2 separate regions of the Homo sapiens genome follow, and region 2 is linked to region 1. The links come from fine-mapping of genetic effects on gene expression. Tissue or cell type: whole blood. Region 1 holds a variant in brackets; the other region holds the start of a gene. All regions are shown on one strand. Distances are between the middles of the regions.

Region 1 (8,103 bases):
ATTGAAAGCAACAGGCTGAACTGGGTAATTCTAGATGATCCAGATGTGGGTGAAGGAAATTCTTCTGTGGCATGCCAAGGAGAAAGGGACTGGAAAAGTCTTCCCGCCCAAAATAGCATGGTGCAAAAAGCACCCAGCTTGGAAATGCCCATGTGAAATGGCCGGTGGCCGCGCAGCTTCCTGAGAATCATTCAGTCTCCCGACAAATATGGGAGGAGGCCACAGTTGGTGCCCCCTGTTCTGGTTGCTGATGAGACAGGGACAATGTGGTTTTCACCCTCTGGGGGACCCACTGCCGAGCTGACAGATGAGTATAAAGCATTGCGCAAATGCAAGGACTCCTGGAGGGGGTGTGGGGACCGTGGGCACCTCGGGCTCACGTAGAAGGAGCTGAGACTTCGTCTCTACTCAGGCAAGTGCCTGGGAATATGGCTTTTGTATAGGGACAGGCTTGACTTCCTCCTGAGTGTGTCCACCTGAGGCAGGAGGTGGCAGGTTGGTGAGGAGGGAGAGGTGGGGATGGTGCAGGCCTAAGGCCTGGAAGAGCACTGGGGAGCCGCTGAGGGACAGGGTGGAATCAGGAGCTAGAGCCCTCTTGGCTGCAGAGTGTACGGCTGAGGCCACCAGCCCTGCCAGACTGTGGAATCCTCACAGTTCAGGAAGCCCAAGGAAGATTGGTGTTTGAGTCACTTAAGGAAGGCCTGGTGTGCATGGCAGGAAGAGGCTCCTCTCCACCCAGGAAAGCCTGCAGAGCTCGGACCAAGCGCCAGCCCCAGGCGCTGGGCCTCCCTAGTCAGAGCCTCGAGCTGCCCTACAATGTCCCAGGGTGAAATGGCCCCCCGTGAACACGGACTTCCCATGCTGGGGTTCTGTTCCAGCTCTGCCTCTAACTCTGCCCGTGGGTGCAGCCCTGCCTCCCTAGGCAGCAGCCTTTAAAGTTGGAGAACTTTAGAAAATTCTCCAACTTTAAAAAGAAAGATTGAGCTGGGACTGGGAGGCTGAGATGGGAGGGTTGCTTGAGCCCAGGTTTTCCAGCCTGGGCAACATAGTGAGACAGACCCTCTTGCTAATGAATTAAAGAAAGAAAAAGAGAGAGAGAGAAAGAGAGGGAGAAGGGGTGGACCCATCTCAATGGCTCCAGTGACTGAGGTCCTTGATGCTAATGGTAGTCCAGACTAGCTTTCTACTTTCTACACTGCTTTCTGGGCTGACTTTCAGTCTTTTTCTCGACCCTGTGCTGAGCCTGGGTTTTATCAAAAAAAGGAGAAAACACACAGGCACATGCACCTTGAGCTGGAGGTGACTACTCCAAGTCACTGAACTTCAACACTACAGAAAGTTTGTCAGATCCCAGAGTGGTGGCTCATGCCTGTAATAGAGCTTCCGGATGCCCAGGCAGGAGGATCACTTGAGGTCAGGAATTCAAGACCAGCCTGGGCAACATAACAAGATCACCTTCTCTACGAAAAATTTTTAAAATTGGCTGGGCATGGTGGTGCATGCCTGTAGTCCCAGATACTTGGGAGGCTGAGGCAGGAGGATCGCTTGAGCCCAGGAGTTCGAGACTAGCTTGGGCAACATAGTGAGATCCTGGTCTCATAAAAAATAAATTCATGAATGTGTCAAAACTCATCTAACTGCTTACTTAAAATATGTGTATGTTACTGTATGTAAATTACACCTCAGTGGAGTTGGTTAAAAAATAATAATGAAAGAAGGAAGGAGTGTAAACTTTGGAAAAGTCTGCAGCTGTCTCTCCTAAAGCTAAAATCCACCAATTCAAGAAGGATCACAGTAGGGTCATGTGTAGTAGCCCCAAACTGTCAGCAATGCCCCTTTCCATCAGTATGAGAACCATAAATAAACGATTGTATATTTACGTAAGAGAGCATCACATAGCTATGAAGTAGAATCACTGACATACACAACAGAGACAGTCTGAAGGATGCACACAGCATGACATCAGACACTACCTGAAGTGTGCACGATCTATGACTCCCTTTACATAAGTTCAAAACCTGGCAACAGGGATCTACAGTGACAGAAGTCAAAATAGTGGTAATCACTGGTGCAGGGAGGTAACTTGACTTGGGGGAGCAGAAGGAGCCTTGGAGGTGCTGGGAAAGGTCCCCAGGTTGACCTAATGTATGGCTGCAAGAGTGTGTGGAAATGTAAATTTCCTTGAGCCCTATACAGGGGCCCAGTGCCCTTTACGATAACAAGGTGCATCTCAGTAACAAAGAGAGAAAGGAAAAGGGAGCAGCCCATGCTTCCCCAGTGCCATTCAGGGTCTAGATTCTGGGCCACCCCTGGCAGCGCCCCTCCTCGCCAGCACTGTGGCTCTGTGCATAGCCCTGGACACGGACAGAATATGACAGAGCTGGAGCCCACACCCACAGCAGATAGGCTGGCAGGGGCGAAGGGGCTACCAGGGGCTGGAGGAAATAAAACTCAAGCTAAGCACAAGGCCGCCCTCCCAGGCAGGGTAGATGGCATGCTCTCTTGGCACTCTGGGCTATAGGATGGGCACCAAACACAGGCCACACTGAAGAGCAGCAGGCCCTTACCTGACTGAACAGTGGGAACCCTGCCAACTGCTCCCTAGCTGAGGGGACAGTGCTGGGGCCCAGCAGAGCCTTGCAGGCATCTCCAGAGAGACCGCAGAAGCAGGCAGGAGCTGAGGGAATCATCTTGGACCAACCTGCCCTCCTCCCACTCGTCATTTTTAGAGTCAATGCCAGGCTACTAGAGGCAGGTGGCCCTGACTTCAAGTCCCACTGGCTCTGCCTGACCCTCAGCTTTCTCATCAGATAATTAGGGATGAAGTTCTCACAAGAATAAGGGAGCATATATAGGAAGCACCTAACCCAGGGCCCAATGTTCACCAAATGGGGAAACTGAGGCCCAGAGAGCAGATACACACACCACAATCCAGGTAGGCCAGGCACAGTGGCTCAAGCTTGTAATCCTAGGACTTTGGGAGGTCGAGCTGGGAGGATTGCTTGATCAATTTCTTCCTCATCCCCTGCTCTGGGGTTTCCAGAATGCAGTCCCTCCCACAGTTGCTCTTCTACTTAGCCCAAACCACCTCATCTCTCCCACCTCCTCTGTCCACACAGCATGTTCCAGGCATGCGCCACTCCCCACAGCACTCTATGTTCAGGGTCTCTCTGTCCCAGAACCCCTATCATCTGAGGCTGGGAAAGGGTGACGGCATTTACCTATGGGGCAAGGGGGCTCCCCATGGTCACGCCTAGCTGCTGCTTTCGTCCTGCGGGACAGTCCCACAGCACAGGTCTGGTTAGGAAGTAACACCAGTGAGATCATTGAGCTCCTTTAGCCCTAGTTTCTCCAGCTGTGAAATAAAACTCTCCATTCTGTCTACTCAGAGGGTGGGGACAATGGGTGTGAAAAGGTTTTCTAGGTGGCTACCTGGAGAGTTGAACATAAAGCAGAGGGCGATGCTGGCTGAGTTTGATTTTTATACCAACTGGACAGAATACAGTCTTCCTCTTTCTTCCTTGCCTCCTGGCTCAGCTGCGTCAGTCTCCCCAGTGTGATCCTGACGTTTATTCCG[T/C]ATGCTATCCTCTACAGGACCCTCACCACACAGAACGCTCCTCCTGGTCTGGGCATGGCTCCTGTTTTGATCGAAACCATTGGTGCACCCCAGAGCCCCCCACTGCCATGCCCACCCCTTTGATGTGGTGAGCTCTTGGCAGCCTCACCCTCCATGCCAGCTGCAATGCATTCCCTCCAGGGAGTCATAAAAGCCTCTGATCTCCAGGGGCCCAGCCACTGCCCTTCCAGACAGTCTTTTTCTTCCCAGGATGGCCAGGTCTCTTTTCAAAACTGGTGGAAGTTCACATGGGTCTTTATCATGCAAATGGCCTCAGAGGTGACCACTCCACACTCCCAAACACCTCAACGGTATTTGATTGACAGCCCATGCCCTTTCTGGTGTCTGTTCTCTCCTTCTGATAAATGGCCCCTTCCTGACAACCCTCCCTGCACATCCTGCCATTCAGTCAACCACGGATTTTAATTTAGATAATACCGACAAGAGAAAAACACAAACATGAAAGTCATCCGCAGTCACTGTCATCTCAGGAATCAATGTATTCCCTGCAAGCAAATTTTTCAGTACATGCACAATATTTTTTTTTTTTTTTTTTTTTTTGAGACAGGGTCTCCCTCTGTCACCACCCAGGCTGGAGTCCAGTGGCGCGATCTCGGCTCACTGCAACATCTGCCTTCTGCATTCAAGCAATTCTCCTGCCTCAGCCTCCTGAGTAGCTGGGATTACCGGCATGCCACCACAGCCCGGCTAATTTTTTTATTTTTAGTAGAGATGGGGTTTCACCATATTGGTCAGGCTGGTCTCAAACTCCTGACCCCAGGTGATCCGCCCACCTCAGCCTCCCAAAGTGCTGGGATTACAGGCATGAACCATCATGCCCAGCCACAAATTTTTGTATACACAAAATTAGATCTATTATCATACATAAGTTTTTAATAATCCACTTTTTTCACCTAATATAGTGTGAATTTTTGCTCATGTCCTTAAAAAAATTACATTCCAGAAGAATCATTAATGACTGCACATGGTTAATGGTTATGGTATAGTCTAGCTGTACCATAATTTATTACAGTCCTGCACATTTAACTTTTTCAGGTTTGGCCAGCATTATAAACAGTGCTGCTCGGAGTCTGATGGCTAATCTTGGGCACATCTGCGATCATGATTGCCTTAGAAAAATTTCCCAGCAACAGAATTGCTGGGGATGAGGTATGCACAATATGAAGGCTTTTGAAAACCAAGCACTCGTGTATCGGGCACCTACATGGCTCACAATTTGTGCAAAATGGGTTAGGGGTAGCAGGCAGAGAAAGAACCAAAGCAAGAGAAATCAGCATTCTGAGGGGGGGGGTCTCTGCACACACCAGACCCAGACACCATGGAAGTGCCACATGGGGAAGGGGCTTCCAAAGCACTGAGCCACCCTGAACGTCAGAGCTGGAAGGGACAGCACAGACTCTAATACAATTCTCTGTATTAGGAATGGGAAAACTGAGGCTCAGAGAGGTGCCACCCAGGAAGGGGGTGACCTCAGTACTGGAATCTTTCCAACATGGCTGTGTGCTTTGCTTGAAGTGAGCCCTGCTCTGGGAGAAGGGCCCGAGGTGGCAGGCCGAGCCTTGATATGAAAGTATAAACCATTTTCCCCCACCTCCCAAGCAGAGGTGGATGGGAGGGGGTGAGGAATGCTGAGGAGGCCTCCAGCCGGCCTCACACAGGTAACAGCAGCAGTAGTGACCCATTTGAGCCCCCATGGTGTGCCAGATGCTGGTCCCAGGACTTTGGGTCTGTTATCACTGAAACCACACACAAAATGAGCGACAGGGGCACTGTGGTTTTGTCAGAGATGCTTGCTCTCATTTGCACAGAAAGGAGTTCATGCAAGTCTTTTTATTATTATTACATGTCACCGCAACAGGGTATTGCAGTGGGGGAAAGAGACTGGACTCAACTCCCCACTTATGCAAGTCTTAATCCAAGTGGAATCTCTTCTCTGGATTTCTAGAGTGGCAGGTGAGGGGGCGGGAAGCCTCTTCTCCATAATGGCAGTGGTTCTCACACTTCAGCGTGTGCCCGATTCTCTTGGTGGGAAAAGGGGGAAGTGTTCAAAATGCACATTCCAGGGCCCTACCCTGAGAGCTTGATGCTGTAGATTTTGCACAGGGCCTCCAAGACCAAATTCTCTTTTTTAGAGACAGAGTCTTGCTCTGTCGCCCAGGGTGAAGTGCAGTGGTGTGATCATAGCTCACTACAGCCTCCAACTCCTGGGCTCAAGTGATCCTCAAGCCTCAGCCTCCCAAGTAGCTAGGACTACAGAAGTGCATCATTACACCTGTCTAATTTTTATTGTTATTATTGTATTTTTGTAGAGACAAGGTCTTGCTGTGTTGCCCAGGCTGGTCTTAAAGTCCTGGCCTCAAGCCCTGCCCGCCTCAGCCTCTCAAAGCGCTGGAATTACAGGTGAGAGCCACCACGCCCAGCCGGAGCCTGCATTCTTAAATGTCCCTGGATGACTACGACGCAGGTTGGTCCAAAGACCCCTCTCTGGGAAGCACTGAAGACAGTGTGGTTGATTTTCACATTGGGATCCTGACAAAGTAACCTGTACTAAAGTTAACACAGTAGATATGAGGCTTACACTGAGAAAGGGTCGCAAATAAAGGGAGGTGACATCAGAATCCTATTACGTACCGACATTCCCCCCATAAAGCCACAGATTTGTAATTCATTCATTCCTTTGCAGATTCCGGGACCTCACAACCGACCTTACGGCATTCGCCCAGTAGATGGCGCTAGCTCATTTTAAACCCCGTTTGTAGACGGTGCCTGAAAGCTCAAGACAGAGGGAGCAGCAGATGCAGAGAAAGGGCAAGACAGAGCCCATTATGAGAGAGGACAGCCACAAACAGAAATGGTCAACACTAAGCAGCTGTCCCGAAATGACGCAGAGGAAACTTAAACCCTCTTAGGGTGTAGTGTGTAATCTGGTGTGTTGGCCCGACTGCCACATTGGCTTTCAAAATCCCTGCTGCCTCCCAAGCCTGGGTTCTGGCTGCGGCTCGGAGTTTGGGAGCTTAGATCTAGGACAGCGCCATAACCAGTAATGACCACAAGATGGCGCTGCTGCACTCAGGGACAAGATGCCTGAGAAAAATCTCAATCTCATAAAACCATCTAAAGGATAAAGAGTGTGGCTTAAAATAGGATCGTGGAGGGAGATGAGAGGCAGAAAGAGAACTGCTGATTAGACTTGCACCCTGTCTCTCAAGTTCATGTTTACGATATTAGTACTAATGCTGCTGCTGCTGCCACTGGTGGCTGCTGTTTACTCAGGGGCTACGGAGTGCCAGGCACTGTGATAAGCACTTTCCGTGCATGGTTTCATTCAAAGTTCATCAAAGCCCTAGCAGGGGAGTCCTACGATGTCTCCACTTCTGAGAGGAAGCATTATTTGGGGAACTAGAGACTGAGACGTCTTGTGCTTTCTCAAAAGAAATGGGGACAGTAATCTAATTCTGAGCACACTGACAATAGACAGTGGGGCTTCCACGAATAAAAGGCTGAAACAGCCTGGACAACATAGCGAGAGCCCCCTCTCTACAAAAATGTAAAAAGCCAGCTGGGCATGGTGGTGTGCACCTGCAGTCCCAACTACTGAGGAGGCTGAGGCGGGAGGTTTGTGCCAGGCACTGATCAAGGTGGTAAGGAAAGACAATTAAAGGGACTAGGGGAGGTCCTGAGGAGCCCACGATAAGCCATGCAGCCAGGGGATCAGTGCTGTGGAGAAAATGAAGCGCACAGGAGTCTATATGTGCCTGTAGGTGTGTTTGAGATGATGGCAGAAGTAAACTGGAGCTGGCATCCATGGCTCACAAGAGCCCATTATTAAATTTTCAGGAATTTTGCGAGTCAGTTCTTGGATGGATCTATTATTGAATTATTAAGCTAACAAAGTATATAAACTTACAAATTATATAAACTTAAAATGAAATTATACTTAAAATAAAGGTAACAAATACTCGCAACTCATTACTTCCTAATTATTTTATATTTTACCATTTTCTGTGCCAAAGGTAAGCAAACTGTTTCTGGGAAGGGCCATTTAATGACTGCGTGAGCCATAAGGGTTCAGTCAAAACTATTTGACTCAGCCATTGTAGCACAAAAGCATTGATAATATAGACTGAGCATCTCTAATCTGAAAAATCTTAAATGCTCCCTAATCCAAATATCTGAAATGCTCCAAAATCCAAAACTTCTTGAGCACCAACATGACACTCAAAGGAAATGCTCATTGGGGCATTTTGGATTTTGGATTTCTGGGTTAGGGCTGCTCATCTGGTACTGCAAATATTCCCAAATCCAAAAACATCTGAAACCTGAAACACTTCTGGTCTCAAACATTTCAGATAAGGGATATTCAACCTGTACTTAGATAAATGGTCATGACTGTGTTCCAATCAAATGTGATTCACAAAATCAGGTGCTGAGCTGGTTTGGTTCACGGGCTGCTGTTTGCCACCGTG
Region 2 (8,103 bases), 66 kb after region 1:
GTTTTAGGGTAATAAACTATAGCTTTCAAGTACCATATTTTAAAGTGAACTCTACAAGGAGTGGTAACTTTTTTCCTAACTTTCATTAGCACAAGTGGAAATGAGCTTAGACTTAGCAATAGGATGGGTCATGTTAGACAACTAAAATAGTCAAGCACAAGTTATCAAATATTTCAAAAGCATTATCCAAAAATAAAGGATACAGCCTTTCCTCTTTCAGAAAGAATATATTAAGAACAAGTTTGAAACTCTCTTATTAAAAATTGATTCTCTTCACTGCAACTGATAGAGAAAGTTGAATGGGAAACTTTACGGCTCGAGTCTAGAGATATACAAGGCAATCAACTGAATGATCACTAATATTCTCGGCCAGGCACAGTGACTCACGCCTGTAATCCCAACACTTTGGGAAGCCAAGGTGAGTGGACAGCTTGAGCCCAGGAGTTTGAGACCAGCCTGTGCAACACAGTGAAACCTCATTTCTACAAAAAGTACAAAAGTTAGCCAGGTGTGATGGCATGTGCCTGTAGTCCCAGCTACTTGTGAGGCTGAGGTGGGAGGATGGCTTGAGCCCTGGAGGGAGGGACTGCAGCAAGCCATGATCACGCCACCGCACTTCAGCCTGGGTGAAAAAGCAAGACCCTGTCACACACTCTCTCACATATATACACACTCCATTATATATATATATTTATTTTATGTACTCAAAATACCAGTATTGCAATAAAAATATGCTAACATACATTTCTCCCCACTGTAGAAGTGAATATAACACCAACAGTCTACTTTCACTGGGATGTGCATAGTAGTTAAATAGTTAAAGTCTTAGGTACCCCAAGCAGTAAAAACTGACTCAACACAATATGAAGGGAAAGATCTAAATCACATTGTAAATGAGTTATTTATCATCAAGAAGGTTGGTTTGTTAGTTTGGTATTTTTTACGCTTTCAGTACAGAGTTAGATACTGAAAACTACATCATCTAGGCTAGGCACAGTGGCTCACTCCTGTAATCCCAGCACTTTGGAGGCTGAAGTGGGAGGATCCCCTAAGCCCTGGAGTTCAAGGCTTTAGTGAGCTGTGATAGCACTACCGCACTCCTGCCTGGGTGACAGAATGAGAGCCTGTCCCAAAAGGAAGAAAAAAAAAGAAAAGAAAATTAGCCGGGTGTGGTGGTGTCTGCCTGTGGGCCCAGCTACTCAGGGTCCCAGCTACTCTGGAGGATGGGAAGATCGCTAGAGCCCAGGAGGTCCAGGCTGAAGAGAGCTATGATCACACCACTGTACTCCAGCCTGGGTGACAGAGCAAGACCTGGTCTCAAAAAAAAAAAAAAAAAAAAAAACAAAGAGGAAAGAGAGAACACACACAAAAAAAAACCCAACATCAATCCACATTCACTCAGCTTCTGCCTTTAAGTAAAGGCCTAGGGAACAGTAAGACAACTGAAGGAAAAAGAAGCACAGCTAAATTCAAAGTCACCGTAGGGCAGGTGGGGGTGAGGGGTCAGTGTGAAGGGAGAAATTTTCACTTGTATTCTCTTATTATTTTGCAGGTTGAATCACTTTGAGTGAGTATATCACAAATGACTCATCTAAATACTATCTTACTTCAGGCTGGATAACTGTGTGATTATGAATATCTTGGTAATAAATACTGAATGAAAATTACCAACGAGTTGAAACACAATAATATGTTTAACCCTAAAGCCATGTTGAACAGAAGGCCTTTCCTTTAAGGACGCTGATGAAGGAGAACAGTTCAGGTTCACATAGATTTGAAAACATTTCTGGTTATCTGAGCTTGTTGATGGTCTGGATTCTGAGTAAAGGGGAACTTACTTGTATTAAGATGAAGTCATTCAACCAAGACGAGAGTTGGAAGGCACAAATATTTATCAATTTTCCATGAAGACAATGGAAAGATGATCAGGAAATATGTTTTACATGAAAATGTTAAAGATTACAATTACCACATTCTGAAAGGCAACATATAGTACAAATGAACATCAGTAGCTACAGAAAACTAACAATGGTTAACTTATCCAGAAGATGCAGTGTTTTTCTGATTCTCAAGTTATCAGGTTATATTGTTCATAAGGATCTCACAAAGACAGATCCAATTCAAGAGCTTTTTGCATCTCCAAAGATATCCTGCTTGTTCTAAAAACCACAGGAAGCTATTTAAATTAGAATAAAACTTACAATACTTAATTCTGCCCCTAATTATAAATGGCAAAGAGGTAGGAAGGTCAGCTTGAACACCAAAGAAAGAAGACATGTGGGCCTTTTTCCAAAAGCTTCTGGATAGCTAGAATGATCATCCTTTTAAAAGAGAACATCTCTCACTAAAAGACAAAGTTGTTATATTTCTAAACAGCTAAAGAATAGAGATACAGAGATTCCGTGGCCAGAAAAAAGACTGAGTCCGTTTTAATTTTCCTCAATGACTAATTTGTGTCACAAGTACACAGTCCCTAATACAAGTGGGATTTATAAGGTTAAAAAAAAAAAAGAAAAGAAGAGCCTCTCACATCTGCATATTCCCACTGGAACAAGGAATACTGCTGCCTCTCTAGTGTTAAACCTAGCCACTCCACTGCCAAACTGTGAATTCCCCAAGTCCTTCATTTTTATATTATCCAGTGCCCACACGAGAGCCTGGCATATGCTAGGCACTGAATACAGAGAAATGAATGAAAGACTCAAGTGGTAACAGTGAAAACAAAATTGCATTTCCTCCTCCTGTTTAAGGGATTAAACCAAGAGAAAGAGAAGAGAAAAAGACTCAGGAATTGGGAGTATTTAATGAATTTTGCCTAAAACTTCAGTAATTCTCTAGATAAAATGAAATCATGCTAAACCACTTCATTGTTATACATATAAGAAGAAACAAATACGGAAAATTTCACAATTACGAAACCAAGTTGTTTTGAGGTTTATTTGATACTAGCTTCCTACAGCCTCAACTAGCATGTATGATGCTTATAAATTCTGTACAACCAATGAAAAAAAAACTAATTTAAATCATAGTGTGAAAATCAGGAACAAAATACTAATAGTTTGATAAACAACATAACTATTCCTTTCTCTCTCCCTGTGTTGGAGACTTCCTTAAATCAAACAAAACCACAGTTTAGGTGTGCCAGACTATAAAAATCATTGCTGCTTAATGTTAGTTGTGCTTTATATAACAAGCCTTATCTGCTTCTCACAAAAGTTACCACCCAGAGGAAGGTTTATTTGCAAGAATACTATACAATTTTGCAGCAGAATATTAGAGAATGTTCTGGGTGTTACTTCAATAAGAATTTCCAGCAAATCATTTTCTCCTAATACTGTTCTAGTTCAAATCCACCTACTGCTCAGTGGGGAATGGGAGGCTAAATTCTTAAGGCCATTCAGTCTACTTGGGGCGTGAGGGGGTGTGTAGAAAGCCAACAATCAAACGAACACCCTCTCAAGGCCTGGGTGCTTCTCTGAGAGCCAATGATTGCAAAATGAACAATCTTATTAAGATCCCTAATTAGCCCGAATTCAAAAGCAAGGTAGGCATGCTCCTTAGCTGAGCTAAGGATAAAACTTTCCAGGAAAAATTGAGGAGAAGAAGGTGGCAGGGATGATGGGGGCTGGGAGACTGCAAGGCCACAGGCTTGGTGGCTGGAAGATGACAACTATCCTAAAACATTCAAATGCCAAGGGGTGGAAGAGAAACGATGCCAAGTACATGAATAACCGGCAGCTGACCCAGCTGAGTACCAAACTCAACACCATCTCCTGAAGATTTCATGACTTCGCCCCCGCCCCCCATTCGCCCCCCACCCCCCTCGATTGTTAACATGAAAGAAAAACATAAAGAAAGAATACCTGTCACAGCAGGGCGCACCTTTCAACTAAGGAACTCCGGGTGGCTGTGTAGAACCATCCTCACCCTAGAAAGGGGGAAACTGAAAGAAAAAGCAGAACACGCCATTAACAAGGCCAGAACCCCGACTGCCATTCCTGGACGGGAGCCACCAACACCCGCAAAATCGATCGGTACGTACGCCCCGCGGCGCGGTCGGTAGGAATCACAGCCCCGGGCTCCTGAGGCCAACCGTGGCCGTCGGGGCCCGCCAGCGGCCTGTGCCTCAGTCTCCCAATCTGTAAATGGGGTGGGGGGCGGGAGGGGGACAGCGTCCCGCGCGGCTCCCGCCCCAAGTCCTCTCTCCTCTGGGGGTCCCGATGGTGGCGACCCCGCACGCTCCCCGGACTCGCAGCCCTCCCGGGAAGCCTCGGGGGATGGGGAAGCCCCGGTGGGGGGGGGAAACCCGGGCTGACGTCAGCGGGCTCGGCAACCCGCGGGCCCGGCCGGCTCGGGCCCGGGCAACTAACGGGCCGGCGCCGAGGGCCCGATGGTCGCCGCGGCGGCTCCGGACGCCCTGAGGCCAGGCGGCTGCGCCGAGGGGATCCGGCCGCCCGCCGGCCGCCAGCCGCCCGCTCATTCACTAACCTCGGGCGGCGGGGCGTCGCCCCTCGCCCCGGCTCCCCAGCCCGCGTCCCGGGCCGGCCCCGGCTCCCCACACCCACCGCCCTAGTATTTACCTCCGACGCGCGGCCCCCGCGCAGCCAAACCTGCTACCTGGGCCCGCCCCCACCTGCCCCGCCTCCGAACCGCACAGGGAAGAGGGAGGGAGCGGGGGCGGAGGGGGCAGCCGCCGCGCTAGCCAATCGTAGGCCGAGCTGCGCTCCTGAGCGGGCCGTGATTGGGCCTCCCTGTGACAGACCTTCCTCCAATGGCTGCCAGCCCGGCGCCGGCCGAAGGGACTTTCCGCTCTGTCAAGCTCGGTGGAACCAAAGGGAAAGCGAAGGGGCGGGGCAGAGAAGAGCGGCGGATGGAGGCGGGAAGCTCAAGCTGATTGGGCGAAAGGCTGTGGGTGCCGCGTCACCATTGGCTGATGCTGGAGCCGGGGCGGGGCGCTGCGCTGCCACCAGCTCCGCCTCCCGTGCTCCCGCCTCAGCTGTCAAAACTGTAGACGCTTAGGTTTGGGCTGGGTTAAGAGTCCAGATGAAGGTTGAAATAGGATTCCAGGATGCCGTGAGAGAGCAAAGCTTTAGAATCAGACCTCAGTTTGAATCTTTGGCGCTTTCATTCAGTGGCTGCGTGACCTGAGGAAGTCACAACCACGCTGAGCCTCAATGTCCTCATCTGTAAAATGGAGATCATAGTATCGGTTGTCTTACAGGATTGTGGCAAAATACCGAGCTAAAGTTCCTGGCACGCAGTACCAGCTCAGGAAAGGTTCATCTCTTCCTCCTCCGCAGATTCAGCCTGGGACGCTTGCTGTTTCCGAACCTCTGTTGCCACCTATCCCAGTTTGGAGGGAATTTTCCCAAGGATGGTGAAGAAGGGATTTCCACACGCCGCCTCACTCAGCCCCGCACCCCTGGCCACCAGCCAGGACTTAGGGTGTAGTTAAGGATCTTTCAATTAGAAGGGAGGCTTCTGATTCCCAAAAGCACTCAAAATATTTAAGGAAGTGCTTTTTATAATCAGTCCTAGAGCCTTGCTGCACTGGATACTCCTGTTAATTAATTTCTTCTCCTTTGACATTTTAAGTGCTAATTATAGGAGAAGGTGATTAACACTGAGAAAGGAGGAGGGGTGTGTGTGTGTGTGTGTGTGTGTGTGTGTGTGTTTTTAATCATGACACAAATTTCCCCCAGTGGAAAGTGACATGTTTCTGGAGATCCAGGGAATTTAAACCAATGAATACATAAAAACAGTCACATGAGTGATGACTAACAGTAGCAGTAGACAGGCCACCACTCTTCCTTGCCATAGTCATCCAAAATGAAATGAGCATCTTTTGAAAACCTAAGCCTCATTCTACTCCTGTCCCTCTTTTGTCACTCCTATCTTCCTGTTTTCCAGGCTTCATGACCACACTGCTGTAGGAAGCCATAAGTTGGAAATCAACGGGCCTGGCTTGAAGTGTGGCCTTAGGCAACACCGTTCTCATCTACATCTGGATTCTCCAACAAAGCTGGTAGGACTCAGAGGTCACAGTCCAACTGTCTGGAAGAAAATTTCAGCTGAAATTTGTTTTTGCCTAACCCATACGATAAGGAGGAAGGAGAAAAGAATGTGAAGGAGAGAGATTTGGGGTCCTTTTAGGCAAGGCAAACATTCTCATGTTACCACTGGGACCACTTCTCTTATCTGCACGATCTACATCCACTGGTCCCTTAAGGCATCTGAGTTTGCCACTCTGGACTAGAATATTTTCATGTCCCTTCTTTTTGTTTTTGTTGTTGTTGTTGCTGGGGTGTTTGTTTGTTTGTTTCTTTGTTTTGAGACAGAGTCTTGCTCTGTTGCCTAGGCTGGAGTGCAATGGTGCGATCTCAGCTCACTGCAACCTCCGCCTCCCAGGTTCAAGCAATTCTCCTGCCTCAGCCTCCCAAGTAGCTGGGATTACAGGTGCCTGCCACCACACCCAGCTAATTTTTGTATTTTTAGTAGAGACAAGGTTTCACCATATTGACCAGGCTGGTCTCAAACTCCTGACCTCAAGTGATCTGCCTGCGTCAGCCTCCCAAAGTGCTGGGATTACAGGCATGAGCCAATGTGCCCGGCCTATTTTTGTGTCCTTTCTGTTGATGGTGTTTGGTGCTGCTGAGGTCTCTACTTCCATAGGGCTTTCGTCCCCAGGCTCTGTCCTGTCATACGTTCACTGAATCAGTGCCGGGGCCTGACTTCATCTAAGGGATCTTCATCCAAGTCAAGCCTGACAAATGGGGCTTATCTCAATTATCATTTCCTATCAATTGGGAATGGCTGCTTAGAACATTGCGTTAAAGCTAATTCTGAACTTATATTCAGGCTCACCGGGAAGAGAGATATCTGCCAGGGGATAAGATGGGGAGATAGTGTCATGGTGCTATTATTTGCAGTCCTTGGTGAACCAGCCTCTCATTTTACAGGTAGTAGATGAAGGCCCAAAGACAGTAAATTACAAGCCCCTGTCACTCAGGAGATGGGCCGAGACCCTGATTCCAAGCCAAGACTCTTTCCACCTCTGTTAAAATGGATTCCCCAACTGAAATGCTCATCATCTCTGCCTTCCAAATCCTCCCTTCATGGAGGACCTAGTCAAAGTCCTTTACAGACATGTCTTCACAGAGGGCTCCAGCCCTCACTAATGACCTCTCTCAATCCACCACCCCACAGCCTCTTCCATCCAGCCTGGTCCTGGGTTCATGGAACTAGCGGTTGTGTTACTGAGCAGGTTCCAGGAAACATAGCAGTGTACAAGAGAGATGCCACACTCCCTCTGGCAAAAAAAAAAAAAAAAAAAAAGGCAAACTAAAATACTCATTAGATGATCACTTACTTAATTATGGCTGTGGTAAGCCTCAGAAGAAGAATCTCTCTGAGCATGCCTAAAGGGAGGTTGGCCACTCAGGGAAGGCCTGTTTGAGGAAGTCACCTTTGAGATGAGATGGGAAAGATAACTGGCAGGCAGGAGTGAGGGGGAACACTCCAGAAATAGGAAACAGGAAAGTGCATGACCTGTTGAAGAAACTGGAAGAGGCAGAGCGCAGACAATGAAGGCACAAAAGAGCCTTGGGAGCCAAGGACAGGGGTTGTTCTCCATCCCAAGAGCAATGGGAAGTTGTGAAGGGTTTTGCAGGGAACATAACACTGGTTCTTTTTTTGTTTTTTGTTTTTTGTTTGAGATGGGGTCTCACTCTGTTGCCTAGGCTGGAGTACAGTGGCACAATCATAGCTCACTGCAGCCCCCGTCTCCTGGGCTCAAGTGATCCTCCCACCTCAGTCTCCTGAGCAGCTGAGACTACAGGTACGCACCACCATGCCCAGCTAACTTTTCTCTTTTGAGTAGAGATGAGGGTCTCACCATGTTGCCCAGGCTGGTCTTGAACTCCTGGCTTCAAGTGATCCTCCTGCTTTTGCCTCCCAAAGTGCTGGGATTACAGGCATGAGCCACTGTGCCTGACCTAACACTGATTCTAAGCTGTCTTATGTAGTTCTCTCATTGCACACAGCGGGACCCTAACATAAAGCTATTGAATTGAATGGAGCTTTCCCCACGGAGGACGGTGAACT

Evidence for each region. PIP is the estimated chance that this variant, and not a neighbour inherited with it, causes the effect.
Region 2: CYLD starts here. The variant in region 1 is fine-mapped to the expression of CYLD in whole blood (TOPMed, PIP above 0.99).

The regions. Positions count from the first base shown.
Region 1 is chr16:50,804,973-50,813,075 of GRCh38, reverse strand. It overlaps LINC02168 (long intergenic non-protein coding RNA 2168), which reads right to left and starts at 6,404. Exons shown (of 2, transcript NR_146573.1): 1 at 6,269-6,404; 2 at 5,447-5,658. RefSeq lists enhancers at 2,999-3,108, 2,935-3,934. The variant T/C (reference allele first, on the strand shown) is at 3,578.
Region 2 is chr16:50,738,602-50,746,704 of GRCh38, reverse strand. It overlaps CYLD (CYLD lysine 63 deubiquitinase), which reads right to left and starts at 4,619. Exons shown (of 19, transcript NM_001378743.1): 1 at 4,581-4,619; 2 at 3,864-3,943. It overlaps CYLD-AS1 (CYLD antisense RNA 1), which reads left to right and starts at 3,958. Exons shown (of 7, transcript NR_184279.1): 1 at 3,958-4,034; 2 at 5,301-5,377; 3 at 5,911-6,025. It overlaps MIR3181 (microRNA 3181), which reads right to left and starts at 4,400; the gene lies at 4,328-4,400. RefSeq lists an enhancer at 3,865-3,964 and a silencer at 4,205-4,804.